4 separate regions of the Homo sapiens genome follow, and regions 2, 3 and 4 are each linked to region 1. Evidence: fine-mapped QTL for protein levels in blood plasma. A gene starts in region 1. Each other region holds a variant in brackets. All regions are shown on one strand. Distances are between the middles of the regions.

Evidence for each region. PIP is the posterior inclusion probability: the model's chance that the variant is causal. Protein levels are from antibody-based Olink assays in UK Biobank. Linkage for the fine-mapping came from a reference panel and not from the study's own genotypes, which makes the PIPs less certain.
Region 2: its variant is fine-mapped to the plasma level of the CA4 protein (UK Biobank, PIP above 0.99).
Region 3: its variant is fine-mapped to the plasma level of the CA4 protein (UK Biobank, PIP above 0.99).
Region 4: its variant is fine-mapped to the plasma level of the CA4 protein (UK Biobank, PIP above 0.99).

Annotation. Positions count from the first base shown.
Region 1 is chr17:60,145,938-60,154,042 of GRCh38, forward strand. It overlaps CA4 (carbonic anhydrase 4), which reads left to right and starts at 4,036. Exons shown (of 8, transcript NM_000717.5): 1 at 4,036-4,155. The coding sequence starts at 4,098.
Region 2 is chr17:60,224,955-60,233,059 of GRCh38, forward strand. USP32 (ubiquitin specific peptidase 32) reads right to left here. Exons shown (of 34, transcript NM_032582.4): 13 at 1,085-1,277. It also overlaps SCARNA20. Among named protein-coding and RNA genes, the nearest start is that of CA4, 79 kb to the left of the region's middle. The variant G/A (reference allele first, on the strand shown) is at 4,161.
Region 3 is chr17:60,167,057-60,175,161 of GRCh38, forward strand. It overlaps a transcript of CA4 not described here and the pseudogene FAM106DP. Among named protein-coding and RNA genes, the nearest start is that of CA4, 21 kb to the left of the region's middle. The variant A/T (reference allele first, on the strand shown) is at 3,098.
Region 4 is chr17:60,242,731-60,250,835 of GRCh38, forward strand. All of the region lies in intron 11 of USP32 (ubiquitin specific peptidase 32), which reads right to left. It also overlaps the pseudogene RPL32P32. Among named protein-coding and RNA genes, the nearest start is that of CA4, 97 kb to the left of the region's middle. The variant T/G (reference allele first, on the strand shown) is at 4,957.

The DNA of each region.
Region 1 (8,105 bases):
CTCTCTGAGCCGCAGCTTCCTCTTCTGTAACTCATAGAAGTAACAGAGGATCCCTACCTGCTTCTGGGGTCGAGTGACCCTCTCTGAGAATGTTCCCCAGTCTATAAAATTAAGATCTTGATATCTATCCCGCACCAAAGGAAAGATCAGTCCAACCTTCCAATCCTAACAGACAAGCCCTGTCTGGTCCCAAACCCCTCTCCAGCCTCACCTCCATGCCTTTTCTCATTCTGTTTCCTTCACCTGCATCTCCCTTCCCTTTTTAAGTTAAAGTCTACTTTTCTTTGAAGACTCAGTGCGGGTCTGATCTCTTGAGGGAGGCTTCCCCAGTCTCTTTCCTACAGGCTGGGTTAGGGGCTGCTCCTCTGGGCTCCTGTGCTGTTCTGGGCATAAGGCCACTGTGGCCTTAACAACTAAGAATTACAGCTGAGGTTTACTGAGCACTCAGTAAGTGTCCAGACAGGCCCTTCACCCAGCATTACCTTGTGGAATTTTAACCACGCTCTTGTGAAGGTATTGCTGGTTTTCTTTTTTTCTTTTTTTTTTTTTCTTTTTGAGATAGAGTCTTGCTCTATTGCCCAGGCTGGAGTGCAGTGACACAATCTCAGCTCACTACAACCTCTGCCTCCTGGGTTCAAGTGATTCTCCTGCCTCCACTTCCCATGTAGCTGGGATTACAGGCACCCGCCACCACACCTGGCTAATTTTTGTGTTTTTAGTGAGACGGGGGTTTCTCCATCTTGGCCAGGCTGGTCTCGAACTCCTGACCTCAAGTGATCTGCCCACCTCGGCCTCCCAAAGTGTTGAGATTACAGGCATGAGCCACTGTGCCCGGCAGCTGCTGTTTTTATTTCTGCTGTGTTTTTTGTTATTTTGGTTTTTTTTTAAAATCATGGTCGAAGGCTGGTGATTTTCCTGATCAGGACACTGAGCCTGACGGGGGTGAAAGCTGAGTGTCGGGTCTGGGATGTAGACCCCGGGCAGTGTGGCTCCTACTCCTATTCTGACCCTCTGCCTGATATTCTCTCTGCCCTCCTGCGACGCTGAGCATAAGGTATGATAGGTTTCTGTTTAGGGCAATGTATTTGACCTTCCCCTGAGCTGTGAACCCAGGGGTGCAGGGTCTCAGCTCCCTTTGTGCCTCCACTCCATGGCTCTCACAGTTCCAGCGGGAGCTGCATCTGAACCTCATGTTCCCAGGTTTACAGTCAGGGCTCTCCTCCTTGCCCTTGGGAGCCCAGGAAGAGCCTGGATGTGCCAGGGCCCCTCTCCAGTGCTAACTCAATGTTCCATCCCACCCAATGCTGCCTCCACACCTGCCTAGGGTCAGATTTAATCCAGCTAAGGGGACTCTGCTTAGAGGTCATGGCCACATGTGCCAATGTGCCAAGCCGTGGGCCCAGCCTCCTCAGACTTTAGCTCACTGAGGCCTCAGGGCAATCTTTGAGAGAGATTGGGGGATGATTTCCATTTCATAGATGAGGAAAACTGAGGCTCAGCTGCCATCACAGAGCAAGTGGATGGAGCCAGAAGTGACTCCAGGGTTATGTGTCTCAAAGCCCCTTAGCTTTCCCATGGCCTCCCTTCTGTTCCTGACAGGGCCATGCGTGCAAACATCCCCAGAGGACAAGAGTGTGATTAATCTTTGCATCCGCCATGGGCCAGTGGCTACACCCAGGCACTGAGAGGCCGGTTGTGAGAGTCTGGGCTGGGCAGGCCCTGGTTCACAGCAGACTCCAAATAACTGTTTATTGGTGGAGGTCAGCCGGGCAGGGATTACCATCTCCAGTTTATAGATGAGGAAGTTGCAATCAGCCGGGTGCAGGAAAGTTGCCCAAGGTCATCCGTGAGTCAGAAGAAGAGCAAAGACTTGAACTCAGAACACTGGGGGCCTCTGCAGAGTAAGAGGAAGGAGGCTGGGGCTGCTGGGCTGGGCTCTCCCACTCAGGTGGCCTGGGCTGGCAGCTTTATGGGCCCTGTAAGTCGCTGGGACATGTCAGCACTCATTCCAGCTCTAACGACCCTAAATCAGGCCTTGTCCCCTACAGGTAAGCAGGGCCCCAGGTAGTCTAAATAGTGACAGGTGACTGGTTTATGGCAGGCCAGGACTGGGGTCAGGGCTGGAGATAAGGCTGAGAATGTTAAGACCAGGAACAGGAAGAGAGGGCCACTCACCCTGTGTAACCTTGAAGTTAGAGATGGCAGATGGAGCAGGAACCAGTCCACCACCCCATCGCCAATGTGCAGGCTCTGTGGTGCCCATAATTAAGATGCACCCATAAGAGAGTGTATAGCTTTACCCCTCCCGCATTCCTCAGAGGGGATGCCCTACCAGGGACTCGTTCTCCTCACCCATCTTTATGGTCCCAAAATGCACCCAGGGCCCCCCTCTCTCCTGGGGGGCCTGAATGCAATGAACTTTAAAGTGGATCATTGATCAACAGTCCCTTAACCCCACCAAAGTTTCCCAAGCCTCTCCCCTGCTCATCAGGGGGCTGGCCAGAGGTCACAGGGACTCCCTGGGGGTGGTTTTTATTCCCAGGAACAGGCTTCCTCAGTCCTGAAAGGGACATTTTTATAGCCCTGTGAACACAAATGCACTCCCCAGAATAGGCTCTGGGTGTGGAATCCCTCCTGTGGCTGTCATGGTCGCAGGCTGGTGATTACATTATACAGTGGTGTTGACAATAGAGCCCTAAGCCTGGCATGGACACCCCCTCACCTCCCTCCTGCCTCTCTGTAGGATCAAAGCTGCTCTGTGAGGCTGTGTGATCCTGGGCCAGGAGCGGGGAGTCAGCCTCAACCCTAAGCAAGGAGGAAGCATCTTTGCCTGAATCCTTCTGGGGGAGGCAATCCCCCTTCAGAAGTCCCTAGCCCAGGTTCGAAGGTCGGTAGGGACTGAGAGGTTGGCAGCGGATGGGGAGTGGCTAAACCAGAAAAAGGGGGCTTCCTGTTGATGGATTGATGGAGGAGGTCCAGGTCCACTGCCTGGTTCCCCGTCCCTCTCCCGCACCCCAGCCTGAGCTTCCCAAACTCCCACAGAAGCCCCCACCCCATGTGGGACACAGAGGACCTGCAGTAGCAGGAGGGCACAGCTAAGAGAGGAGACAAGAGGCAGCTTGGGGGCATGGGGGGGACCCCATTTCCCCAAATGTTGGAGCCGCCCTTAAGGGAACTTCCCCTGGACTCCTCTGGAGGTCTTGCCAGATGGGAGAACCAGGGGTCCATTCAGACCCCAGTCTCTTCTCTTCCCATCTCATCTCTCCACCTGGGGGGCTCAAAGAACCTAGCTCCTCCCCTTTGACCCCATCAGCTTCTCCCTCACCGAATCCTCTTACAATCCATTTCTTAATTCTGCCCCATCAACCCTCCCTGGTCATCACATAAACACCAGCAAGGGCAGTAGTTTAGGGACAGCTTTGCTCTGTATTCGAAGAAAGGTCTTTGGTCTGCTTAGAAATTAAGTTTGGAGCAGCCTGGGAGGAAATAGAAGAGATGAGACCCAGAGAATCAATGGCCACTGCCAAAGAGAGATAGGAGAGCCTTTCTGCGGCCACTGATTCAACAAACGGCATCACACGCCCCTCAGCCTCTCATCTCTTCGAGGCCATCTCCACCCCCACCCCCACCCCCACCCCAAGGCCATTCCAAGGTCCCATTCAAGACCACTGCGCAGGGGTGGCGCCAGAATGATCAAAGTCATCATGGGGCACTCATCTTTGTGTGGGTCAAGCACTTTGTGGTGTCGTGTCCCTGTTCCCAAACCAGGGACCAGGAGTAGGATGGGGGAGGGGCAGGGCGCCGCTGCTGAGTGGAGAGGACGCGGAGTGGGTGAGGGGGCCTTGCGCACAGGGCAAGAGGTGGCCAGGCAGGGCGGGGGACCGGGGAGAGCGGAGGATTTCAGATGAGGGACAGGGGAAGGTGGAGAGGGGAGGGCAGGCCCCGCCAGGGGGAGGAGCCGCCTCCCGCGTCCAGCTGTCGGGGCTCCCTCCCGTCGCGGCTCCGCTATAAAACCCAGGCCGGCAGGATCGCTGCACCCGCGGCGGCCTCCTCGGTGCGCGACCCCCGGCTCAGAGGACTCTTTGCTGTCCCGCAAGATGCGGATGCTGCTGGCGCTCCTGGCCCTCTCCGCGGCGCGGCCATCGGCCAGTGCAGGTGAGCTCCCGGGCTCCGGCCCCAGGTGCCCCTCGGCGGTCCCCTCCGTGCCCCCAGCTCCCGCCCCTGCAGAGGATCCCCCCGCGGGCGACCGGTGAGCGTCGGTGGCGCTGGGGTCCCGGGTTGCGTGTGCGCCGGGGGCCGCGAGGGTGCGGGAGGACTGGGCAGCGCGCGAGCTTGTGTGTGCACACGCGTGTCAGCACCGGCTGGGGGAGCGTGTGCACGGGTGTGCGCGGTGAGGGTGTGTGCGCGTGGCCCGGCGAGACGAGTTGGGAGTCCCTGATAAGGATGCGTCTCAGGCCGGGCGCGGGTGCTCCAGCCTGAAATGCCAGCACGTTGGGAGGCAGAGGCGGGTGGATCACCTGAGCCCAGGAGTTCGAGACCAGCATGGCCAACATGGTGAAATCCCATCTCTACCAAAAATACAAACATTAGCCGGACGTGGTGGCACACGCCTGTAATCCCAGCTACTCGGGAGGCTGAGGCCCGAGAATCGCTTGAACCCAGGAGGTGGAGGTTGCAGTGAGATCACGCCACTGCACTCCAGCCTGGTGCTCCGTTTAAAAAAAAAAAAAAAAAAAAAAAAAAAAAAAAAAAAGGATGCTTCTCGGACCCGCCTCAACGCACGCCTTCTTTTCTCACCCAGCCTCCTCCGTCTGCCCGTGGGTTTCCGTCCGTCCCGCTGGGACTCAGCGCTGGGTGACTGCCCCGCGGCCAGAGCAAGGGCGGTCTGGCAGGGTCCTGGAAGCCGCGCTTCCCACACGGGTTCCTTGCCCCTGAGGGTCGCAAGCTCCCCTGGCCTCCCTAACCTCCAGCGCTGAATTGGGAGCCTGGCGGGGGCGGGGGGTGGGGGACCCGGAGCCCCAAGGCCTCTGCGGAGCCGGTCTTTCCGGACAGGGTGATTTTCGTTTAAAGATTAATGGTGAAGCCGAGCTCTTAATTATTCCTCTAGGTGGGAGGTGGCAGGAAAGGCATGTTAATATTTGATAAGAAGCTAAAGGCGCTTCAAGCGGCTGGGCACAGGGATCCGATCCTGGAGGCACCTTCTTTGCAACCCCAGACCCCATCACCGGAAGACCCCCTCTGCCAGTTCTCAGCCCAACCACCCCTCGGATGGTTCTTGGGGTCCACGCAGGCTGAAACCTCCTCTCCCAAGTTAGGTGCTCCATCCTCAAAGCGGCGGAGTGAGGGGTGAAGGTGTCCTCTGCACAGAGAGGAGCCAGCGTGTGCCCTTTGCAGCAGGGACTGGCTGAGCTGTCTTAGAGGGTCGAGGGGCACCTTGCAGCCTCTCCACCGGGCCCCTGGGAGAAGAAAGAGAAAAAGCAGAATGTGGAAACTTTTATTTGTAGGGTTGGACATTGGAAACCTACTAAGCAGCTAGAAAGTAGAAAGAGAAATGCTTTGCAGTTCTGGTGCTTTGTAGCTGTGTGGTCTTGGGTAAGTCACTTCCTGTCCCATTTGCAAAACAGGTGTTGTCATTCTGACTTCAGGGGTTTTAAGCGTTTGAATAAGATAATGGGTTTAAGTGATTAGTGCGGTGCCTGTGTGGCACGTGGCTGGTGTGTCATATACCAAGTTTATGGGGCTCTCCCCCAAGCCTGGGGCCAGTGTCAGGAATGTGTCTCAGCTCACCCCTCACACAAGCTGCTATCCCCTTTAGTGCCAAGGCTTTCTGACTGGGACCTGCCTTCCATTCATCTTATGGAGGACTCAAGCTGAGAAGGGACCAGGTTGCATATGGCGACCCCCAGAGCATCTCTGTCCATTGAGACAAGAGGCCGGGTGAGGATATTTGGTCCCCTTCAGAGCCCCAGACCCCTGGCCGGGAGCGACTGAGACTTTGCCCAGGAAACACTTGGGTTGTGCTGAGCTGTTTTTCAGGATTATCCCCTGTCCCTCAGAGGGGGAGGTGGGGTGAGCAAGGTCCATTAGAGAGGCTTCTTCAGCCATCTTGAAATAAGGGGGAGGGGTGGCAGGTCAGTCAGTGTGGGGGGCAGTAGCTGGGTGACAGGCGACTGACTTTCGGTCTCTAACCTCTGGTCAGGGTGGATGGACTAGGTAGGATGTGGCGCTGGACACCGAGACCTCTGGGTAGGTAGCCCCTCTCCTTCCCAAGCCCTCTTGGGAGTGGCCTGAGTCAGTGGGCTGGTACTTACCTGCAAGGGTGGCCCTCTCATTCAACGAAGACAGGAACCTGAGTGGTGGGTGCTCCTGCCACCAGCACCCCACCCTCATCCACCGACATGGACCTGACCCCTGGCCTTGACCTCACCACCATTATGTTTTCCTGGCTGCTGCTTCCTGAAGAAGGTAGTTACAAGTGCGTTCAGCCAAGCAGGTCAAAAGTCTCCATGATTAAGACAGTGGATCACAGGTCACCACTACAAACCTAGGAGCTGCGGCCAGAGCCAGGGAAGACCAAATTCCTAAGAAAAGCTAAGCCTGGACCAGATGGGCCCCAGGGAGGCTGTGAGGCGAGTTACAGGGGGCTCCACCCTTTGCAGCTGGCTCTTGGGGATGCTGGCTGAAGGGAGGCTTCTCCTGGAATGGCTGCCCCCGGGCCCTCCAGTCAGAGAAGAGGCCAGCCCAATCTTCAAAACCCCTTCCTCCTTCAAGACCTCTGCGGGTGGGGACATGGGATGATTATGGCAAGGAACTGTCATGGTGCAAATGCCCTCTGATTTATTATCTCCTTAGTCACCAGCACTGGGAATTTGGTGGCTGCACCTGTCAGAGGCGTTTGAACCAGAGTGACTCCATTTTGGGTGAGAGCTAGGAAAATGAGGCCGAGATTTGCTGGGCTGCATTATCAGAAAGTCAGGCATTTCTAGCCTCTAGATGTTTGCAGTTAAGGGAACAAATTAATAATATTTACTACACAGACCCAGACTTGGGAAGGTCCAGATACTCCGATATCTGGAGAGCAAAGGCATTCCTAATTTTGCTTTAAAAATAATAATGTTGGCTGGGCACGGTGGCTCACACCTGTAATCCCAGCACTTTGGGAGGCCGAGGCGGGTGGATCATTTGAGGTCAGGAGTTCGAGACCAGCCTGGTCAACATGGTGAAACCCTGTCTCTACTAAAAATACAAAGATTAGCTGGGCATGGTGGTACATGCCTGTAATCCCAGTTACTCAGGAGGCTGAGGCAGGAGAATTGCTTGAAACTGGGAAGTGGAGGTTGCAGTGAGCCAAGAGCCCACCACTGCCCTCCAGCCTGGGCAACAGAGCGAGACTCTATCTCAATAATAATAATAATATCAATTCTTGGATAATGTAGTAATTAAGAAAATTAATCCTTTATCACAAACCCTTGTAGCAGAGCACATGTCCCCATATATACAACGCATTGAATGCATTCCTTCCTTCTCTGACTTTTGGGAATGTCCTACTCTGTCTATGGAGTAGCTGTCCTTTCACCACTGTACTTTCTTAATAAACGTGCTTTTCCTTTGCACTGCAGACTCAACCTGAATTCTCTCTTGTGCAAGATCCAAGAACCCTCTCTTGGGGTCTGGATCGGGACCCCTTTCCTGTAACATGCCTTCTGTCAGAGGAAGATTATGGGACTCAGAATGTCAGATAACTCCCCTGTGGAGACTGAGCAAAGGCAGAGCGGGAGCTGGAGGCTTCGGAGCTCTGCCCCACTGCTGGGGTGGCGAGTGGCCACTGCCCTCTGCAGAATCCACCCACATGGGGGTGGTTCAGGTGCAGCAACTCCCAGGGACAGCAGAGCCCTGCCCGGGGCTGGGGATGGGCCATCAGGGGGAGGACACTGCAGCTCTGAAAAAGGCGATGCCAGCAGGGAAGGAGAGGCAGTGATCAGGGCAGGGAAACTCCAAAGCCCAAAGCAGCTCTTCGTGGCCAGTTAGTTTTCCTGGGGATGCTCCCTCATGGCTCCTTCCCCATCCTGTCCCCACTCCGGGGACTCTACCCTGGCTTAGACTAC
Region 2 (8,105 bases), 79 kb after region 1:
AGGCATCTGAATTCTTTCTCAGTATTTTAACAAAATAATCTCCATATTTTGGCCTGAAATATACATAGAATCTGATGTGGGGTGCATTTAATTTAATTATGTTTATGGCTAGAGAGAGTCCTGGAGATGACTATCTTTGAAAATTTAAATTTACTGACTAAATAATTTAATAGCAATAGGGAAAGATGGGGCTTGATTGATGAAAATAGTGAAAATAGCCGCATGTGATGGCTCATGCCTGTAATCCCAGCACTTTGAGAGGCTGAGGCCAGAGGACTGCTTGAGCCTGGGAGTTTGAGACCAGCCTGGGCAACATGGCAAAACCCTATCCCTAAAATAAAAACACACAAAAAATGGCTGGGCATGGTGGCGCGTGCCTGTAGTCCCAGCTTCTTAGGAGGCTGAGGTGGGAGAATTGCTTGGGGCCAGGAGGCAGAGGCTGCAGTAAGCCGTGATTATGCCACTGTACTCCAGCCTGGGTGACAGAGCGAGATCCTGTCTCAAAAGAAAATAGTGAAAATATTTCCATATTGAGAGATTTAATGAAGTATAATATGGAAAAGAGGTTTTCTTTGTAAAAATACTAATATATTCAAGAATTTTACAATTGACCATTTCATTCAAAACTTATTTCTGTTAATGGAAGCCTGATCTCCTATTACCATATTCACTACAGCCTCTGTCAAATTAGACTGCCTTAATAACTATCCATGGGGAGGCCAGGCATGGTGGCTCACGCCTGTAATCCCAGCACTTTGGGAGGCCGAGGCAGGCAGATCACGAGGTTGGGAGTTCAAGACCAGCCTGGCCAACATAGTGAAACCCCATCTCTACTAAAAAAATACAAAAATTAGCCAGGCGTGGTGGCGGGTGCCTGTAATCGCAGCTACTCAGGAGGCTGAGGCAGGACAATCGCTTGAACCCAGAAGGTGGAGGTTGCAGTGAGCAGAGATCGCGCCACTGCGCTCCAGCCTGGGCAAAATGTGAAACTCAGTCTCAAAAAAAAAAAAAAAAAAGAAAAGAAAAGAAAGACCTATCCAGGGGGAATAAACCAATAAACCTCAGGGGAATAGGTCATATTTACCGCTGCCAGCAGTTTCTGAGGCTTCAGATGCAGTAGAAATGTTGTCTGAAAATTTCTCTTCTGTAGTATTCACGTAACTGAGGCTGCTTCCAATTCTATCTTCGACCTGCTCCATAGGATGGGCTGCAGTTCCAAATGAGTATTTTCCTCCATTCAAAACAGATGATGGCTCAATTACCACAGGGTTGGCATCCTAAAATCAGGAAATCAGAGAATAAGAAGCAAAGTTTATAATCTGACAACTATGTAGTCTTCAGAAACAAATCTCACAATTATCTATTTTTTTAAGTCTCCTGTGGTTGGCCACAGACATTTAAAAACATTCTAATACATAGCTATATTTTAATCTCTTTCAGGAGGAAAAGTATGTATATAGATAAAATTGGCAAGGTAGACAAAACAGACTGTGAAGGATTTTGTGCCACATAAAGTAATTTACACTCTATTCTGTTGGCAGCCATTTTTTTAACATTAAAAGTAAATAAAGCTTAAATTTTTTTCTTTTCTTCCTTATTTCCCATAGTACATGAATGTATATAATTTTTTTATTATTAAAGATTACATGGTCAATGTAGAAAATATAGAAAACATGAAGAAAATATCACATGTACTCAGATTCCATCATTTAGCAATAACTGTGTTTTAGTTCTTATGACTGAAAAATATGTATATATGTAAAAGATGAGTGGTGTATGTACATAGAGTGAAGGGCAATGCTATGACTTATACCTATGTGACCTTCTACAATAACTGAACACACCTTTAATCCCAGCACTTTGGGAGACCGAGGCAGATGGATCACTTGAGGTCAGGAGGCCAAAATGGTGAAATCCCATCTCTACTAAAAATACAAAAATTAGCTGGGGGTGGTGGAGGGCTCCTGTAATCCCAGCTACTCGGGAGGCTGAGGCAAGAGAATCACTTGAACCCGGGAGGTTGCAGTAAGCTGAGATTGCGCCACTGTACTCCAGCCTAGGCAACAGAGTGAGACTCTGTCTCAAAAAAAAAAAAAAAAAAAAAAATCATATTTTTTTCTTTCACCAAACATTGTATTGTTTATATAGTGCTAATATGCTAATCTAACATTTCATATTTTCTCTATTTCTCTTTTTAACAAAGAGAGAACAATCCTAAATAGCAGAGTCTTCAAAAGGCAACACTATTAGCTGGAATTTAATAATATTATTGCCTTCTATTTCTGGCAAGCGACACTAGTTTTCTTTTCTTTTTTTCTTTTTTTTTTTTTTTTGAGACGGAGTCTTACTCTGTCACCCAGGCTAGAGTGCAGTGGCGTGATCTCGGGTCACTGCAACCTCCACCTCCCAGGTTCAGGAGATTCTCCTGCCTCAGCCTCCCGAGTAACTGGAATTACAGGTGCATGCCACCAAGCCCAGATAATTTTTGTAGTTTTCATAGAGATAGGGTTTCACCATACTGGCCAGGCTGGTCTTGAATTCCTGACCTCAGGTTATCTGCCCGCCTGGGCCTCCCAAAGTGCTGGAATTACAGGCGTGAGCCACCATGCCCATTCAGTTTTTCTTTTCTTTTTTTTTTTTTTGAGACAGGGTCTCGCTATGTTGGCTAGGTCAGTCTTGAACTCCCGGCCTCAAGCAATACTCCTGCCTGGGCCTCCCAAAGGGCTAGGATTAAAGGCGTGAGCCACTGTGCCCAGTGGACATAAGTTTTCTACTTAAAGTAGTGATATAAAGTTTCCTTTGAAAATATGATTAAATAACTAATTAATCACAAACAGTTATAAATTTCTTTGTTCCTTGTCTGTTACCACTGCTTCACTTTAGTAGCCAAAAAATTTTTTTAAATTTTAAGTAAAAATGGCATAATTATTTATGTAAGTTAACTGTATGGCATTACATGAGAAAAATGGTGACCATAGTTTAAAAAAATGATTAAGAAGTAGGAATCTATATTACATATGAATTTTGGACCATCAATTTTTAAAATTTAGATGGTTCACCAAAGTAGTCAAAATTCTTTTTTTTTTTTTGAGACAGAGTCAAGCTCTGTCGCCCAGGCTGGAGGTCAGTGGTGCAGTCTCGGCTCACAGCAACCTCCGCCTCTAGCTTCAAATGATTCTCCTGCCTCAGCCTCCTGAGTAGCTGGAACTACAGGCACCTGCCACCACACACAGCTAATTTATGTATTTTTAATAGAGACAGGGTTTCACCATGCTGGCCTCAAACTCCTGAACACAAGTGATCCACCTGCCTTGGCCTCCCAGTGTGCTGGGATTACAGGCGTGACCCACTGTGCCTGGCCTAGAAACCAAAATCCTGTAGACAAGACAGTAGAACCAAAATGATCTATGTCAAAAAAGAAGTATAAATTAGTCCTAAGTGTTAATTTTCTTAAAGATAATATCAAGCTTCTCACAGCTTTTCTAATATGGAATTCATACCAACACAAAATACATGACATTTAAATTAGGTTTCTTTTTTCTTTTTCTTTTTTTTTTTTTTTTTAATTAAAACAAGTTTTGGCCAGGGATGGTGGCTCATGTCTGTAATCCCTGCACTTTGGGAGCCAAGGTGGCTGGATCACTTGAGCTCAGGAGAGTTGGAGACCAGCCCGAGCAACGTGGATAGATCCCGTCTTTACAAAAAAATATTAAAAAAAAATAGTGGGGCATGGTGGTGTGCACCTTTAGTCCCCAGTAACTTGAGAGGCTGAGGTGGGAGGATGGCCTCAACCCAGGGGGTGGAGGTTGAAGTGAGTTGAGATCATGCCACTGCACTCCAGCCAGAGCAACAGAGCGAGACTCTTTGTTTTTTTTGTTTTTGTTTTTTTTTTTGGTAGAAATGGAGTCTTACTGTATTGCCCAGGCTGGTCTCAAACTCTAGCCTCAGGTAATCCTCCTGCCTCAGTCACCCAAAGTGGTGGGATTACAGGTGTGAGCCACCTCACCTGGTTAAATTAGGTTTCAAAAGAAAATTTTCCATAAACATAAATGCCTTATTATTTAAATCAATTCAACTTTTTTTTTTCACTTATGCTTTTTGATTTTTTTAGTCTGGAGTATAGCAAAGGCTCTTTTTTTAATACAGGGTCTTGCTCAGTC[G/A]CCTATAGCTCACTATACCCTTGAACTCCTGAGCTCAAGTGATCCTTCCACCTCAGCTAGGACCACAGGCATGCATCACCATGCCCAACTAATTTTTAAAGTTTTCATAGAGATGGGGTCTCAATATGTTACCCAGACTGGTCTCAAACTCCTGGAGGATCCAAACAATCCTCCTGCCTTGGCCTCCCAAAGTACTAGGATTACAGGCATGAGTCACCCGGCCAAAGGCATTTTTTCATTTTTAAAGTTCTCTATGTGATCTCACTACATATGCAGCCAGAATTAATAACTATTGCCCTAGTGAGGATTATAGTCTCATGCATTTGTTTTTATAATGTGCTCCAGATGTTAAGAGCTTAGAAATTGACTTGTTATTAAATCTGCTACCTGCTCTGGAACTTGTGTTTTAGAAGAAGATTTAGATTTATTTAGTTTTCAGGTCATTTGCTTCCTGCCCATAAAGATGGAGCAAGACAGACAGCAAAACCATTTTGAAAGAGTAACAGCGCCACCTTTGAGAAAAATTAAAGTCTTCCAAGTCACTTTGTTTTCCTCCAGAAAAATCACTTTAGTTTTGCTATAAGTGATCTTAAATGATGTTTCAATAACCATCACATTTTTGGCAAGGTAATCCGTTTATAAATTTATACTCACTTCTATATTCCATTTATATAAAGTTGATGCATTACAAATTACTTTTTTTTTCCTTCTTTTTTTGAGACAGAGTCTCGCTTTGTTGCCCAGGCTGGAGTGCAGTGGTGCAATGTTGGGTCACTGCAACCTCTGCCTCCTGGGTTCAAGCAATTCTCCTGCCTCAGCCTCCGGAGTAGCTGGGATTACAGGCACGCACCACTGCGCCTGGCTAATTTTTGTATTTCTGGTGGAGACAGGGTTTCGCCACGTTGGCCAGGCTGGTCTTGAACCCCTGACCTCAGGTGATCCACCTGCCTTGGCCTCCCAAAGTGCTGGGGTTACAGGCGTGAGTCACTGCGCCCGACCACAAATTACTTTCTAAAAAATTTGTAGTAATATATTTTGAGGAAGATTGGGTCTATTTGAGCAAACAATTTTCTTCAAGTTTTCCTCTAAGATGGGCATGTAAGAGAATTTCAAGGAGTAATATTTGGAATTGTATCTTAAATGTTTTAACATGTTTGAAAGTCTTACATGGTGCCTATGTTTCTAAAGAAAATGTAAATGAAACCATTCCTGTAATAATGCTTCTCATTCTGAAGAGCTCAGTCCATAGGTTAAATCTATATATATCACTGGCAAGAAAACAGGATAATAAAAATATTACCAGGCATTAAATTTGCTAGGCTAAATTTTATAATAATTTGTGAACAGGATGATTCTAATAACTTCTCAGAGATTGCAACATTTGCCTCTAGCAACTGCGGTTCTACCACATGCTTTTAACATGGTACAGTGAGTAATAACCTTTAGACTTGGAGAATATGGGCTTTTCTTTGCTTCTCTTCCAATGCTCCAAACAAACTAGACTGGTCTGTCTTCTCATTGTCTTCGGCTTTCTTTTCTATTACAGGAACCTGATGCTCTCACTGTTCTCCACTGCCTGAAACTGTCAGCACAACTCAGGTTCCTTCTTCCCCTTCCTACACGCTTATTTTTCTTGTTCCTTCTACCCTTCTTGGCTTTCAGTGAAATAGCTACCTTTTCATCCGATTAATCTTATTACCACTTTCCTTCTATAAGATGAACAAACCAATCACAGTTATATATTGCAGAATCTTAGAGTCACTAGCTTTTTTTGACTGTTCATTTCTGGCTGCTTGCGGAAATTTTTGTTTTTCTAAAACATCAAAGGATCATGTTTTGTTTTTATTGACTTCAGGGGTCTGGAACTATTCAAAATTATCCTAGAACCCTGGTTTTCAGAAGATAGATTTCTAAATAGGTAAAGTTTCACCTGTAGAGAGAAATGTCCTCATTTTCTGAGTCAACAATTCACAAAAGGACTAGGTACTTATTTTAATATAAGAGAATTTTATTTTGAGATTTTAGGATTCCCTGTGAGTTGTATAAATAGTTTATGTGTTCTAAAATATGGGTCAAGATTCACCTTTTTCTCTATTGATGATACTACTACTTTTTATGCCCTGTACATAGGTATGTTACAAGAATCAATTAACAGTTATGTCAATTTCATATTTCACTAGTGACTGAAATGCTAGCTTTGGAAAAATAGAGGGCAGCATGGAGCAACAGATTAGGTACTAAGGCAGGACTCAGGACACTGAGCTCTAGAGTGCTAGATAAAGTAATAAAATAATTGTCTGATACAGCTTTGGGCAATTATAAAACCTAAGGACCTCAGAGGCTTCATTTGTAAATTCAGAGAAGAGAGGTGTTTCATTCCTTTTATTTCCCACTCAACTACACATGTCTGAGGCAGGAAAACAAGGCTGCCCCACTCGTGGCAGTCCTGACGACGATCCTCGAGGGCTGCTCTTGGCCTCCAGCCTTGGCTAAGGAGAACAGGGACCCCCCAAAGCCCATGGGAGAGAGGCACGAAAGGTGATTTAAAGTATCTTCTAGCTCTAAAGTTACGTGATAACTAAATAGGAAAATCTGCATGTGAATAGTAATAGCTGCTCCTTCATAGTTCTCAAAAAGGAAGATACACATTATGTAATGTAATAATGATAGAAAAGATTTCACCATTCTTCCCCATTTACATTTTTTTAGGAGATTACACATAGAAGAATAAAGCTTGACACATTAAAGCGGGGAAAGACTGGTAAGATTCCATGAGCAGAGACACAATCAAATTATTCATGCTCCAGTGAATCAGCAAATCTGGGGTTAGCCACTTCTAAGAAAGGATGGCTCATTTTTCCTGATCCCTTGGTCTCTGATCTTTCCATTTAGTCTTGCCAGTATTTGAAACATACTACCCTCACAATTAGTAATATTCGTAAGTAAATATGTCATTTTATGAAGAGAAAAAATTAAAGCTAAGTACTCTCTTAGGTAGGCAGATGAAGCTCTAAGATCAAATTATCTGACATGTCAACACTAATTTTCTTTTTCTTTTTTTTTTTTTTTTTTTTTTGAGATGGAGTCTCACTCTGTCATCCAGGATGGTGTGCAGTGGCATGATCTCGGCTCACTGCAACCTCTGCTTCTTGGGTTTAAGCGATTCTCCTGCCTCAGCCTCCCAAGTAGCTGGAACTGCAGGCACACGCCACCACGCCAGGCTAATTTTTATATTTTTAGTAGAGTCGGGGTTTCACCATGTTGGCCAGGCTGGTCTGGAACTCCTGGTCTCAAGTGATCTGCCTGCCTCAGCCTCCCAAAGAGCTGGGATTGCAGGTGTGAGCCATTGCACCTGGCCCAAATTTTTTTTTTTTTTTTTTTTAAACAAGGCGTTTGTCAAAGTGGCCACATGGACTGGAAAGAGAAATTTGATTTTTTTTTTTTTTTTTTTAAATACAGTCTCATTCTGTTGCCCAGGCTGGAGTGCAGTGGCATCATCTTGGCTCTCTACAACCTCTGCCTCCTAGGTTCGAGCTATTCTTGTGTCTCAGCCTCCTGAGTAGCTGGGATTACAGGCATACACCACCATACCCGGCTAATTTTTGTATTTTTAGTAGAGACGGGTTTTCTCCAGGTTGGGCAGGTTGGTGCTGAACTCCCAGCCTCAAGTGATCTGCCTGCTTTGGCATCCCAAAGTGCTGGGATAATAGGCGTGAGCCACCATGCCTGGCATGAAAGAAGAAATTTAAATCCTCATATAACTACTGCTACTACTACCACCATTATTACCTTTAACCTTATATAGAGTTTCTATCTGCCAGGCACTGGGCTAAGTGCTTCACATGTATTAACTCATTTAATTCTCACATCCCTACTTAAATAGATATTACTATTAATCTCATTGTTCATATGTGAAAACTGAGGTAGAGCAAGAAGTAGTAATTT
Region 3 (8,105 bases), 21 kb after region 1:
CTGCTTTTCTGAAGAAAATTGAGAGGTAAAGGAACTTGTCCCTTGCCAGCGAATGAATGACAAAATGGGGAATTGAACCCAGATCTGCAAACCCAGCAGTCCTTGCTGCTTCCCTTATACTGAGTGCTGCTGGCCTCCAAGTGTTTCTTGTTCTGTGTTTCTACATGGACGCTTACAGGGAAGCATGGGTGCAGAAATCGCCAGGCCAGTCAAGGACGCTGGGATGTGTGCTGACCCTAGCCCTGGAGCGCTCTCCCCCACCACTCCCCGCAGTCTTGCTTCCTCTTGTGAAGTCTACGTGCTAGCCAAGACCCAGCCTGTGAGGCCTGACCTGATCTCTGCTCCTTGTCTGCTCCCCCAGCAAGAGTCCCTGAGGAAAAGAATGGGGAATCACGTCTTAGTCATCAGAGCATCGAAGTGCCCAGGCCAAGGCTGGCCACAGAGAGGGAGGGCAGGTGGCAAATGTTTGCAGCACGAGTGAATAAAAGGAAAAATGATAGCAAAGAATGGAACTACCAGGCACCATTCCAGGGCTGGGACTAAATATTTACCTTGCCCATTGGGCAAAGATAAGCCTGGTTTTCCAGGCTCTATTTATGCCAGCTTTCCTTCAGGGGCTGACACAGTCAACCTGGTATCATTACAGCTTGAACAGCGGTTTCCACATGTGGGATCTGGGTGTACAAGGTGCTTGATTCTCAGATTCTGCTATTCCCTAGCTCCATGTGTCTTCCCAGTCCTTGAGCCCTAGGTGGCTTTGCACCTCCATTCTGCTGCCTGGTCTGTCCCCAGTCTCCATGAGGCTATTGAATCGGGGTTCATTCTACTCTAGATGAAGCTGTGTATCCTCGTTTAGCCCCTGAGGTCAAGCCACATCAGGAGCTGCTTACAACATGACAGGACAGACTTGCCTGGGTCTACTGCCTCAGTGGCCTCCTGCGAGACACCTCTCTTAAGGGAATAGGGTTGGGTATGACAAGCTGGGTCCAAGTGAAGCTTCAGAGATGTAGAGATGTAGAGATGTAGAGATGTAGGGGAGGAGGGACTCTGAGTTCAGTGTGGCAACCACTCAGCCTCTGGGACTCACACCAGGGGCATAAGGAGAATGGAAGCCGCATGTGGAAAAGGGAAGGGTAATTTCTTTTTATTTTTTGGGGGGGCGTGGGGAAGGGTGATTTCTTTTTTTCGGGGGGGAGGAGGAGGTGGGGAAGGGTGATTTCTTTTTTTGGTGGGAGGAAGTGGGGAAGGGTGATTTCTTTTTATTTTTTGGGGGGGAGGTGAAGAAGGGTGATTTCTTTTTTTGGGGGGGGCAGGTGGGGAAGGGTGATTTCTTTTTTTGGGGGGGGCAGGTGGGGAAGGGTGATTTCTTTTTTTGTGGGGGGCAGGTGGGGAAGGGTGATTTCTTTTTTTGGGGGGGCAGGTGGGGAAGGGTGATTTCTTTTTTTGGGGGGGCAGGTGGGGAAGGGTGATTTTTTTGGGAGGGGGTGGGGAAGGGTGATTTCTTTTTTTTTTTTCGGTGGGGAGGTGGGGAAGGTGATTTTGTGGAAATACGAACAGCTCTGCTTTGGGAAAGCCTTCGTGGAGTGTGAAGGGAGCAGTGAGCAACTCTGGCCCCTGGTGTCCTGCCTGGGAGGCAATGCCTAGAGGCAGTGGTCACGTTGGGTGAGGGGTGCCCAGAAGATCGGGTGGTCCCTCTCAGAGGACACCACGTGGCAGCTGAAAGGACTAGTTGAAGAGCACACTTGAGATACCCTCTGGAGGCTGCCATCAGTACTTTGAGGGAGAGTGGGTCTTTGCAGGGGGATAAAGGAGAACCAATGAAACCTGAGTCATTACAGCGAGTGACCTTTCACTGAGCCTGAGGCTGCTATAACCAGGAAAACACAGCCAGTGTGGAAGCAGATTCACAACCAGGCACGGTGACTCGCGCCTGTAATCCCAGCAGTTTGGGAGGCCAAGGTGGGCAGATCACCTGAAGTCAGGAGTTTGGGGCCAGCCTGGCCAACATGGTGAAACCCCATCTCTACTAAAAATATAAAAATTAGCCGGGCATGGTGGTGCATGCCTGTAATTCCAGCTACTTGGGAGGCTGAGGCAGGAGAATCTCTTGAGCCTGGGAGGCGGAGGTTGCAGTGAGTTGAGATCATGCCACTGCACTCCAGCCTGGGCAACAGAGAGAGACTCCCTCTGTCTCAAAAAAAAAAAAAGCAGCAGCAGCAGCAGCAGCAGCAACAGCAGATTCGCAGATTCATGGAGATACTACTGCTTGGAATTTGGTGATGCTTCAGGGAGTGGGGCCGGAGCTGGCCTATGCTCCAGACAGGCATAAACTATCAACGTAAACACAATTACACCTAAGCCTCTGCAGGCATGGTGCTGATGCTGCCCCCTCCCAAGGGGGTACCATCTGGGTGGGTACAGGCCCTGGAGGCTGACTTTTTTATTTTTTTTAAGATGGAGTCTTGCTCTGTCACCAGGCTGGAGTGCAGTGGCTCAATCTCGGCTCACTGCAACCTCTGCCTCCTGGGTTCAAGTAATTCTCCTGCCTCAGCCTCCCAAGTATCTGGGACTACGGGCATGCGCCACCATGCTCAGCTGATTTTTTTGTATTTTTAGTAGAGATGGGGTTTCACCATGTTAGCCAGGATGGTCTCAATCTCCTGACCTCGTGATCCACCTGCCTCAGCCTCCCACAGTGCTGGGATTACAGGCGTGAGCCACTGCCCCCGGCCAATGCTGACAATTTTCAAGTCAGCTATGGAGTTTGAATTTTCCTCCAAATTTACACTGGCTATTTCCCCAGTTCAAATTAGGCCTGACTGGTTTCTCTTTCTCTTTCTTTTTTTCTGAATACATATCAGTTTTGGATTGAGGCCTAACATTTCCACTACCATCCAGAGGAGAGATGAGAAAACCAGAGTTGGGCTCTTAATCCCAGGGGAAAAAACAATGGGCTGCTCTGGAACGCTGCAGAGTCAGGGTTGAATGAATGCAGGAGCGGGGCAGGCAGCTAGGGAGTGTGTCGGCCACGTGATGAGCCTGCCATGGTGTCCAGATGGACATGTGGTATTTGGTTTAAAGCCCACGCTACTGGGGC[A/T]TAAACAGCTGAGGATAAATGATCAGACTCAATTGTTCTCTCCTTTCCCAGGAAAGGCCAGGAAGGAAAAGGCCCCAGTTTAAGGGAGAAGGCATTGTCCTCAGTGGATGAAGCATAGTCAGGTAGCCCGGTCTGGCAGGGGGCCAGTGGGGAGCACGAGATTCTCATGGCTGCTGTGGCTGGTGGCCGCCTTTACAACAATAGCATATTGGACTCCTGTCCTTCCCATCCCACCTCTGAAATGATCACACCCATGTTAAATCTCTGATAAGATACTATCAGATACTCCAAAGTCCAGTTTGGAACTACAGTCTTTGCTTGACTCAATCCAGAATCCTTTCTCTCTCCCTGGTCCTATCTCCCCATCTAATCCCCCTCAATTCTTCTTTCTATCCAGCTGCTAAGGTCCCTGGGCCATCAGAAGCGAATAGAACAAACCTAAGACATCACTCTCCATCAAGAGGCCTGCATGACTCTTTATTTACATCATCTTCCAGGAAGAGGAGGAGGAGCTGCTTTGGGGACACCCACTTCCTCTCCTTACGTAACAACACACTGCATTTGCACAAGTGTCCTTGGTTGTAAAGGGTTCCACACTCACTTTCTTATTCAGGGCTTATTACAAGCCTCTCAGGTAGCTATGGTCATGGTACCCTGATCCCTTGTCAAAGATGAGCCCACTGAGGCTCAGGGTGACTACCGTTGTGCCAGGAGTTGCTAAGTGGTGGATCACAGACTCCAGTTCAGGGGGAGGTAGGGTGGTAAAGAAGCAGCTGGATGAACCTGGGTTTGAATCCTGCTCAGAAATGTTCCATCTGTGTGACACCACAGGCAAGTGACTTAACCTGATTGAGCCTCAGCTTCCTGATCTAGAAAAAAGGGTGATCATGCATCCCTCATAGAGCTGTGGTGAGCATTTACGAATCACGAGTGAAACATGCATAGCATGGGGTTTGGCAGATAGAAGTCCAGTAAATGTCTAAGCCCATCTCCAGCGTTTCTTCTGGTTCCAAGCTCAGGACTATCCTTTAAGCTAAGTGGTAGATACTCAATGAACGTGTTTTGGATGATTTAGCCCTCTCCTTTCCCCCATCCCTCCCCAAGTGAGAGGATGTTTATTTGCAGCTCTGTGCTGCAGAGAGCTCTGCAAACAAGGATTGGCAGCAGTAACTTTCTCCAGCTGGCACAACAATGAAAGGCCACAGGCCCTGGGGCTGCTCCCTATGGATGTCCAGGGAACAGAGGCCAGGCAGCAGGCTGACTGCTCCGGGCACTCCCTGTGGCTTCTTCACTCTAGCTGGCTACCCAGTATACTGAGTAGCAAAATGGCCTTTGAAAAGGCCCACCCTGTGGCCATGATTTCTAGCAGACCAAATGAGAGTGTTCTCCTGGGAGCACTGTCAACTCCTCTTGCTGGAGACAATTCTCTGGGAGCTCCTCAGACCCTACTGGAGCACTGTGTGCTTGGCTTTCTGAATGCTTAGAGGTGACAGGTGCTTTAGCAGACATCCAATCCACAGCGGTTGCCCAGGCAGCACTACACCCCCCACTGTCACTTCAACCGGAGTAACTCCAACCTCATCTGCTTTAGCTATGGGTCCTTCAGGTAAATGTGGCTGGAATGGCTGGAAGAAAGGGTCGGGTCTCAATGTTGTTTCAAAATAAAAGCTGAAGACAACTGACCTAATGCAACTCGCTCAATATTCACAGGGGGAACCGAGGCGCGGACAAGGCAAGTGACCCCCAAGGTCATACAATTCTGCCAAGTGCTGAGCAAACACTGCGGACTGGACTTCTGGTCTACTGCTTTCCATGGCATCAGCTAAGATGACTGCTCTGAACCTGGGGCTGCGGCAGCCTCTGATGATGGCCGTAGGTATCTCCTACTCCATTCTGGAGGCTCCCTGCTGATCCCTAATGTGGAAGTCCCCCTCTTCCTCCCCAGTTTGTAATCCCAGTGGGCACTGAGGTTTGGCCATCAGCAGCAGAGGATCCTGCTACAGATAACTGAAGGGTGGTACTGAAAAAACCATCAGATCAGCAGAGAAGCCCCGTCCCCTTATCCCCAAGGTCCTTGGACAACTCCTCCAACCAGGCACATTTTTCCTTCCTGGGCTGCACTCAGCTGTGACTGGGCTCCTCTCTCTGGCATGCCTCCTCCCTGTCCAGAGCTCTTCTAGGTTTTCCCCCTTCTGCCTCCTTTTTTCTTCCTCCTCCACTTCCTTCAGTCTTCTTGGGGCATTTCAAGCCTAGCACCCATCTGTGAGTTCCTCTTGGGCTTGTTGGTAAGGTCTAAAGTTTGTTATCAAGAGAAATTCCAGCCAAAGTGGATTGTGAATATGAAAAAGAGAGAAATTACAGCAAACAGAACTTATGTTTATAATAAAATGGTCTAAAATAGATACATATGTGCCGTGTGGTGGCTCACACCTGTATTCCCAGCACTTTGGGAGGCTGAGGCGGGTGGATCACCTGAGGTCAGGAATTCGAGACCAGCCTGGCCAACATGGTGAAAACCCGTCTCTACTGAAAATACAAAAATTAGCCAGGTGTGGTGGCGTGCGGCTGCAATCCCAACTACTTGGCAGGCTGAGGCAGGAGAATCACTTGAATCCGGGAGGTGGAGGTTTCAGTGAGCCGAGATAGTGCCACTTCACTCCAGCCTGGGCGACAAGAGTGAAACTCCGTCTCAAAAAAAAACTAAAATAGGCCGGGCACAGTGGCTCACGCCTGTAATCCCAGCACTTTGGGAGGCCGAGGTGGGTGGATCACCTGAGGCTGGGAGTTCAAGACGAGCCTGACCAACATGGAGAAACCCCATCTCTACTAAAAATACAAAATTAGCTGGGTGTGGTGGCTCATGCCTGTAATCCCAGCTACTCAGGAGGCTGAGGCAGGAGAATTGCTTGAACCTGAGAGGCGGAGGTTGTAGTGAGCTGGGATCGCTCCATTGCACTCCAGCCTGGGCAACAAGAGCGAAACTCCGTCTCAAAAACAAACAAACAAACAAACAAAAAAACTAAAATAAATAAATACATAAATAAAATGGATATGTATTTATACAAACCATAGAAAAATGTTTGGCAACTATCCCAAGATACCTGACAATGTGAAATACTTTTATTACAACTGGCCTGACCTTCAAAGGCCTTCACAGCTCCTGCCTTCCTGTTACAGTCTACTATGTTCCTCATGCACCTTCCACTCAGCACAAACAGGCTGCACTGCCTCTGAAACGCATCACTTGAATCCTGCCTCTGCTCCTTTGTCCATCTGAATCACCCTCTCCACATTTCTGACCCAGTAATCCTAATCTCACTTTATGAGGCAGTTCGCTTCCCTTTTGCATTTCCCTGGGGTACACTGTCAATAGCCTAGTGTCTGATGTCATCAGTCAGCACTTCATCAGAGGCAATTATGTCTACAGAGCTTTTGGCTAATTACTGTCACTCCTTACATGTGTGCATATGCATATCATCTTTCCCTAATGAGACTGGAAATAATGATTCATTCCCTGGAGCAGTGGTTTCCATAAATGACCAACCCACAGACCAGTGCAAACTGGCTGTGAAAGAGCTTCCTCTGAGGAACTTATTAGAATGCAGATTCTTGGACTGCATGGGAGAGGAGGATCTCATAAATCTGGGTGTAATAGGCACAGAACATTAGGTGTAATATGGGCAGGACTCTGGACTCAGCATATCCAACAAGCTGCTGGCTGATTCCGATGATGCCGATGAATTGCCAGGTTGGGAACTGTTGCCCCCAGAGAAACTAGCAGAGAGCTCTGTACGTGGTAGGTGCTCACTCCCCTATTGTTTGGGTGTATGCCTCCTGATAATGAACTTGAACATAACATTATTGTTATATTATGCCTGTATTGTTTCCTTAAGTGAGGGAAGAATGCTTTTGAGTACCTAATAGGTGGCAAGCTCTGTGCCTACTTACATACATGATCTATTCCTTTTAATAACCTTTGGAAATGAAGTGGTATTTTCACTGGGCGTTAGAAATCTGAAAACTTTCGTTTACAGCTGTTGCAACAGCAGAACTAGAATGTGACCTCCGACATAATGGGCTCAAAGTCTATGACCTTTCTGCTCACCAGAGGGCATGAACTGCTGGTTTGTACCTGGCTTGCAGATACCTTCTTTGGGCAGCACAATGTTCAAAGTTAAAAAAATTTACCAACACTTCTAAACTGGATACTTTGTATTAATATCTGGGTTTCTGGCTTCTCTTCATGGGAAAAACAAAACAAAACAAAAGGTTTGGTGAACACTGGGGCCCACATTCCTGCAGGACAACAGTCACATGGAGCCTTTAGATGGGCATGTGCCTAGAACACACTAGAGTCCCCATCGCTCCCCATTCTCTTACATTCTATTCCCAACCAGGTTCTTATAGGCCTGGGTTTGTGACTGCTGCACACTTATCTACTCTCTTGCTTCCCACTGGTCAGGAAGTCTGGCAAACTTAAAAGGCCTCTTTTTGTTGCTCTCTCCTGTATGGATCTCTGATCATAGAGGTGTGTGCATTTCTGTCTTTGTGATTTCAATACTAAGGAAGCCGTTGGTACATTATCAAGAGAAACTGGGATCGCCACTCCCCAACTTACACATTCTGGTGTGTCCCAGTAAAATTCTGTACTCAGCCTCCAAACTAGCTGGGAAAAATGTGGCAAATCATCTACTTGCTCCAATTCAATGGTGTTTAGAAGTAAGAAGTCACTGTGAGCAATGCCACCAAGTGGTGGAGAGACTCCATGCAGACTCACCACCTTCAGCCAGGGAGGCTGGGAGGCCGAAGACCTCTCTCAACGCATAGGGCCATTCAGAAACTAGAAACAAAATGCTTGCCCATCTCCCTAGGCCAGTCCTTCCGAGGCTTTTTGAGACAAGGTCTCACTGTCACCCAGGCTGGAATGCAGTGGCACAATCAAGGCAACCTCAACCTTCTGGGTTCGAGCGATCCTCCCACCTCAGCCTCCCGAGTAGCTGGGATGACT
Region 4 (8,105 bases), 97 kb after region 1:
TTCCATTTTACTGATCTCTATGATTCTCCTTATTCCAGTACTTGATTAATGTATCCTTAGGTAAATTGTGAAATCAGGAAGTCTAAGTCTTCTGTTTTTTGTCATTTTTTTGAAGTTGTTTAGGCTAGTCTGAGTTCTCTGCATTTCCCTATACAATTTAGGAATAGCTTGTCAATTTATAGAAAAAAGCTGGGATTTGATTAGGTGTGTTTTGAATCTATAGAACAATTTGAGAAAATTGCCATATTGACAACAATAAGTTTTCAAATCCATTTACGTACATTTTCTTAAATTTCTGTCAGCAATGCTTTGTATCTTTCAGTGCACAAGTCTTGCACTTCTTTTGTTGAATTTGTTTCCAAGGGTTTGATTTCTTTTGACAATATAGTGAATGGAATTGTTGTCTTCTTTTTAATTGTACTTTCAAATTATTCTATCTAGTACATGACAATTCAATTGATTGCTTAATCATTGATCTTGTATCCTGTCATGTTGCTGAACTCATTTTATTAATTCTAACAGTTTTTCTGTGAATTCTTCAGGGTTTTCTACACATAGGATCATGTTATCTGCAATTACAGACAGTTTTATTTTTCTTTACAATCTTGATGCCTTTTATTTCCTTTTCTTGCCTAATTTAACTAGCTTGAAGCTCTAATACAATGTTGATAAGTGCGGCAAAAGCAAGTATCCTTTCCTGATCTTATGGGAAAAGCCTTCAGTGTTCTACCATTAAGTATGATCTCAGCTGTATGTTTTTCAAGATATTTTTTAGAGTGAGGAATTTCCCTTCCCCAAAGTTGTGAATGAGCATGACTGTGCTCTAGTAAAATGTTATTTATGTACACTGAAATGTGAATTTTATATAATTGTAAGGTGTCACAAAATATTTATCCCCTTTTGGTTTTTTCTAAGCCACTTAAAACGGTAAAAACATTTTTAGCTTGCAGATTGTACAGAATCAGGCAGTGGGACAAAGTTGGTCAATATGCCATAGTCTGCTGACTAACTGCTGGCCTAGTATATGGTCTATCCTAGAACAATACTCTGTCTACATTTGAATATGTATTCTGTTGCTGTTGGCTGAAGGGTTCTGTTGGTGGGTGCATATATCATCATTTATCATAATAAAATGTCTCTCTGGCTCCAGTAACTTGACTTTTGTAACCTAAAAGCCATTTTCTTTTCTTAACAGTAAAGTGATTTTAGTTCACGTATGGCTATATTTGTATGGTTTTATCTTTTATTCTTTTACTTTCAACCTATTTGTGCCTTTGAATCTCAAGTAGCTGGATTGTGTTTTTTTTTTTTTTTTTTTTTTTTGAGATGGAGTCTAGCTCTGTCACCCAGGCTGAAGTGCAGTGACGCGATCTCGGCTCACTGCAAGCCCCGCCTCCCGGGTTCACGCCATTCTCCTGTCTCAGCCTCCCGAGTAGCTGGGACTATAGGCGCCCACCACCACGCCCAGCTAATTTTTTTAGTAGAGACCGTGTTAACCAGGATGGTCTCAATCTCCTCACCTTGCAATCCACCCACCTCGGCCTCCCAAAGTGCTAGGATTACAGGCATGAGCCACCGTGCCCAGCCAAGTAGCTAGATTTTTCAAAAAACAAGTCAGTCTAAATCTTTGGCTTTTGATTATCTGTTCAATCTGTTTATATTTAAGGTAAAAACAGATGTGGATTTATGTCTGCTATTTAGTTTTTTGTTTTCTATGTATCAAGTCTATTTGTTCCTCTATTCCTCTAGTTCTTTCTTTTGTGGTAAATAGGTATTTTCTAGGAATTTAAATAGGTAACATTTTAATGCCTTTTTAAATAAAACTATTTTGGGGGATCATTTTCTTAGAGATTGTTGTAGGGTTTACAATATGGATCTTAACATAGTCTACTTTATTGTTTATTTTACTTTATGTTTTTGAGATGTCATCTTGCTCTGTCGCCCAGGCTGGAGAGCAGGCGTTCCATCTCAGCTTACTGCAACCTCTGCCTCCTGGGTTCAAGTGATTCTCCCACCTCAGCCTCATGAATAGATAGGGTTACAGGCACGCACCACCACGCCAGGCTAATTTTTGTACTTTGAGTAGAGACGAGGTTTTGCCATGTTGGCCAGGCTGGTATCGAACTCCTGGCTTCAAGAGATCCGCCTGCCTTGGCCTCCCAAAGAGCTGGGATTACAGGCGTGAGCCATGGCACCCAGCCAACATAGTCTACTATGTTTGATTGATACTAATTTATTCCAGTAAAGTATAGAAACTAAAAAAGTGTAGAAACTAAAACATAGAAACTTTGCTCAAATATAGCTCCCCTTCTACTCTCACCTTTGTGCTATTGTTGTCACTCATATAAGATCGTTATATGTAATGGGAACAACATGGTTTTATAATTATTGTCATGTAAAAATGTCTTTTAAACCAGTAAAAAATAAAATAAACAGAATGGTATATTTATACTGTCTTTTATTATTACCTATGTAATTTCTACTATTGGTGCTCTTTATTTTTTTTTTTGGCAGTTTTTATGGTTTTATTTAAACATAAAACATGCATATGAGCTGTCTATTCATTTTCTTCACAGGCTGGCATTGGGATTGGTGACTCTGATGGCCAGCTGGGCTGCTCTTTCCACAATGTCTTTGCAGTTCTTGGAGGAAACACTGTGGGCAATCTCAGCACACTTGTTGCACGTCAGCAGCACTTCCAGCTCCTTGACATTGCGGACCAGGAAATTCTGGAAGCCACTGGGCAGCATGTGGTTTGTTTTTTGTTGCTGAACCTTCTACAAACTCTGTTGTCAATACCTCTGGGTTTCTGTCAGTTACACTTAGTTTTGACATATCAGTGTAACTGGTGCTGGATGAAATTCTTGGTTCTCTTTTTGATGATCTTGGACTTCACAAGGGGTCTGAGGGCAGCTATGATGCCAAGTAGGAGATGGCTGCCACCTCCGTAGGCAGCGCCAAGGAAGAGAGCCTCTTTATTTGTTCATGTGGATGTTAATAACCGTCTGGTGTCACTTATTTTCAGCTTGAAGAACTTCCTTCAGTATTTAAAGACAGATTTCCTGGTAACAAATTTTCAGTGTTCATATAGGAATGTCTTTAGTTCACCTTCTTTTTTTTTTAATGTGTTTTTTTTTAAAAAGCTTTAAAAATATTTCTATTAAAAAATTATATATAATAATAGTATATGTTTTTGGGGTACATGTGATATTCTGATATATGCATACAATGCGTAATGATCAAATATGGTAATTAGGATATTCATCACCTCAAATATTTATCATTTTTTTGGGTTGGGAATATTCCGAATCTTCTAGCTAATTTGAAATATACAATAAATTATTTTTAACTATAGTTACCCTACTGTGCTATTAAACACTAGAAGTCATTCATTCTATCCAACTGTATTTTTACAGTCATTAACTAACCTCTCTTCAATATTATCCCTCCTGCCCTTGCCAGCCTCTGATAACCATCATAATACTCTCTAATTCCACGAGATCAACTTTTTTAGCTCCCACTTAAAAGTGAGAACACGTGATATTTGTCTTTCTATGCTTGGCCTATCTCACTTAACGTAATGACCTCCGGTTTTATCCATGTTGCTGCAGATGACAGGATTGCATTCATTTTATGGCTGAATAACATTTTATTGTGTATGTGTGTGTGTATATATATATATATTTTTTTTTTTTCTTTATCCATTCATCAACTGATGGACACTTAAGTTGATTCTGTATCTTGGCTATTGTAAGTAGTGCTGCAATAAACACAGGGGTGTAGATAGCTCTTTGCTTTACTGATTTCCTTTCTTCTGAATATATACCCAGCAGTGGGATCGCTGGATAATATGGTGGATCTATTTTTAGTTTATTGGGGCACCTCCATACTGTTTTCCATATTGACTGTACTAATTTACATTCCCATCAATAGTGTACTAGCACTTCCCTTTCTTCACATCCTCATCAGAATCAGTTATTCTTTGTCTTTTTTATAATAGCCATTTTAACTGGGAGATAATATTTCATTGTGGTTTTGATATTTCGATTATGATTAGTGATGTTGAGCATTTTTTCATATATCTGCTGGCCATTTGTATGTCTTTTTTTGAGCAATGTCTATTCAGATCACTTGCCCATTTTTAAATTGGGTTATTTGGTTTTTTGTTATTGAGTTGAGGCCTTTATACATTCTGGTTATTAAAACCTTGATGAATGGATAGTTTGCAAATATTTTCTCCTATTCTGTTGGTTGTCTCTTCACTCTGTTGACTGTTTCCTTTGCTGTAAAGCTTTTTAACTTGATGAAATCCTGTTTGTCCATTTTTGCTTTGGCTGACTGTGCTTTTGAGGTATTATACAGTGTCATACCACTCAGACAAATGTCCTACAGCATTTCCCCAATTTCGTCTAGTAGTTTAGGTCTTAGATTTAAGTCTTTGAATCCATTTTCTTTTCTTTTTTTTTTGAGGCGGAGTCTCCCTGTGTAGCCCAGGCTGGAGTGCAGTGGGGCAATCTCGGCTCACTGCAACCTCCACCTCCCGGTTTCAAGCAGTTTTCCCACCTCAGCCTCCTGAGTAGCTGGGATTACAGGCGCCTGCCACCATACCCAACTAGTTTTTGTACTTTGAGTAGAGATAGGGTTTCACCATGTTGGTCAGGCTGGTCTCGAACTCCTGGCCTCAGGTGATCCAGCCGTCTCGGCCTCCCAAAGTGCTGGGATTACAGGCATGAGCCACCTCGCCCAGCCTCTTTAATCCATTTTGATTTGATTTTAGTGTATGGTAAGAAATTGGGAACTGGTTTCATTCTTCTGCACGTGGATATCCAATTTTTCCAGCACCATTTATTGAAGAGATTGTCCTTTCTCTAATGTATGCTCTTGGCATCTTTGTCAAAAAAGAGTTGGTTGTAAATGTGGGGGGTTTTGCTTGTTTGTTTGTTTTGGTTTTTTTTT[T/G]GTTTGTTTGTTTTTGAGACAGAGTCTCATTCTGTTGCCCAGGCTGGAGTGCAGTGGCGTGATCTTGGCTCATTGCAACCTCCACCTCCCCAGTTCAAGCGATTCTCCTGCCTCAGCCTCCTGAGTAGCTGGGACTACAGGCATGTGCTATCACACCTGGATAATTGTTTTGTATTTTTAGTAGAGACGGGGTTTCACCGCGTTAGCCAGTATGGTCTCAACCTCCTGACGTCATGATCCACCTACCTCAGCCTCCCAAAGCACTAGGATTACAGGCGTGAGCCACCACGCCTGGCCTGGATTTATTTCTGGGTTCTCTGTTCTGTTCCATTGGTCTATTTGTCTGTTCTTATGTCAGTGCCATGCTGTTTTGGTTACTATAGCTTTGTAGTGTATTTTGAAGTCAGGTAGTAATTCACCTTTATTTCTGAATTACAGTTCTGCTAGATAAAGAATTCTGGATTGACAGTTTTTGCTTTTTTGGTTTTTTCCTTATATCACTTTCTCATATCACTGCACACTGAGCTCTATTGTTTCAAAAAGTCAGCTGTTTATCACATTGTGGTTCCCTTCTACATGATGAGTCTTTCTGCTCTTGTGGCTTTCAACTTCTTCCTTTGTCTTTAGTTTTCAACACTTTGACAATGATATGTCTAGGTGTGATTCTTTCTGTGTTTAACCTAGTTGGAGTTCATTAAGCTTCTAAGATTAATAATTTTCGAGAAATTTTAGAACTTTCAGACATTATCTTGTCAAACTTTTTTCTGCTTCTTTCTTTCCTTCTGAGACTTTCATTATGCATATTTTGGTAGACTTGATCATGTTCCAACTTCTGTGAAACTCTGTTCATTTATTTGGTCTTCTTTCTCTCTTTCTGATGAAATAATCTCTATTGATCCATATTCTGTTTTGCTGAATATTTCTCTGTCAACTCAAATCTGCTAGAATTTCTATTTGATTCTGTTTTAAATTTTTATTTATTTATTGCTATTTTCTATTTGGACAAGTCAGTGAGATCATACATTCCTCTAATTCTTTAAATACAGCTTCGTTTAGCTCTTTGAAAACATTTACAATAGTTGTATTGAAGTCTTTGTGTGCTAAGGAGAACATCTGCTGCCACCTCTGAGACAGTTTCTACTATTCTTTGTTTTTTCCTCGTATATGGGTCACATTTTCCTGTTTTATTCCATGTCTCATAATTTTTTCTTGTTGAAAACTGAACACATTTGATACTTTATATTAGCAACTCTGGATTCTGAACCCCTGTGTGTTTTGTTTTGTTTTACGACTTCCTGGAACAATTCTGTAGAGTTTATCTTCCGGTACAGTATCTTGCAGTGTGAAGCTGCTCAGTTTCTTCGTGTTTTCTTTTTTATTATCTGTTTTTATTTTTAAGCTTGGCCTTCTTGGGGTGAGCCTAACTTACTGGTCAGCCAATGACTGCTGAGAGGTTGTGCTCTCAGCAGTTTACTGGTTGTGTTTAGCCAGTAACATTCACACCCTTTTCCTGATGGATCTGTACATGGTTTGGGGAATGCATTTAAAGTTTGGGCAGGTTACAAGCCTACCCTGGCTTTTACTTTCTGCACATGCAAGGCTTCACCTTCAACTAGGGAAGAATAAAGTGCTAAAGCCCACTTTGGTTTCTCCTGAGTTTGTGTATAGCCTTGTACAAGCAGTCTACAGATCACTGGGGACATGAGAAAGCTTGCTAAGGCTCACTATGGTGATCCTGTTCCCTGTTAAAAATTTGACTGGTCTGTTGTTAGTCTGCTGCTTCCCCTAACCAGTATTTTATCCCCAAGCTGGTGATGTCAGTTTTCCCTCACTGTTTACCACCATGATGGTATGTATTTATTTTATTATCCTTGGACAGGCATTTATTCCTGCTCTCCTTCAAATCATGAATCAGACTGACAGCCCATGCAGACTTGCTGGATGGGAGGAAATGAAAGCTGCTCCTGGTTAAATTACCACACACTTCCATTGTTCTCACCAAGGATTAGTAGTTCTTGAATAAATGCTTCTCAATTTCTTGTATATATTTGGTCAGTTTCCAGAGTCCTGAAATGGTTGTTTGACAATTTTGTTCAGTTTTTTAAGTGCTTTTGGGGAAAGGGTTGGCTGAGATCTTCACTCGGCCATTCCAGAAATCACGATACTTTTTTTTTTTAACAACGTACTGACTGTAAGTTAGAGACAAATATTTGTTTCACCTCATTGCATATGAACCAACCTGAATCATCCTTTAAAAATTATCACAGTCAAATGAATTTTTATAAGTAATAGTAGAGGCAAAATAAAATAAAACTGAAAATGAATAAACAAATTTTAAAAAAAACCCACAGATGAAATGAACCCATTTGGAACCAACAATTTTAAATCTAGACTTATTAAAAAATACAAAATACAAAAGGCAAATTATTGGTACTTTTAATGAAAGAGGTCCTAAACTTGATTCTGCCAGTCCCATGTAATTTCAGGTCCTCAACTTCTATAAATCTTGGTTTCCACTTTTACAAAATGAGAGACACTAATTTCATGCAGTTATTCTAAGGACCAGATGAGATAATGTAACTACATGTATTTTACAAAGAATAACTTTCTATGAAAATATAAGATTATATCAACCTTATTTTTTGAAATAGGGATGCTATGAGTAGTTGTAAAATAAGCCAATAAATATAAATATAGGCTATAAAGCATTATTTCTACCTATGCTAAGTGATATTTACCTCAGAATATATTACTATAATAAATTAGATTGTAATATTCTAAGAAAAAAAGTCACTATAGCCACATAAAAGCCTTTATGTATGTCCTTACAATATCTGGTTTCTACATGTCAATTATTTTAAAATCCTACGTTAATATATTTTAAAATCTTTTAGTAGCTAAAAACTAGAGACAATCAAGAAAACACTCAAGAATATCAAGACTGAGTCTTCTGAGTATGAATATTTAAAAAACTACATGAAAGTTGGGCACATTGGTGTACACCTGTAATCCCACCTACTCAAGAGGCTGAAGTGGAAGGATCTCTTGAACTCAGGAGAGTTCAAGACCAGCCTGGGCAATACAGTGAGACCCCATCTCAAAAGAAAAACCAAGACAGAAAATAAAACCAACAAACAAAAACTACATGA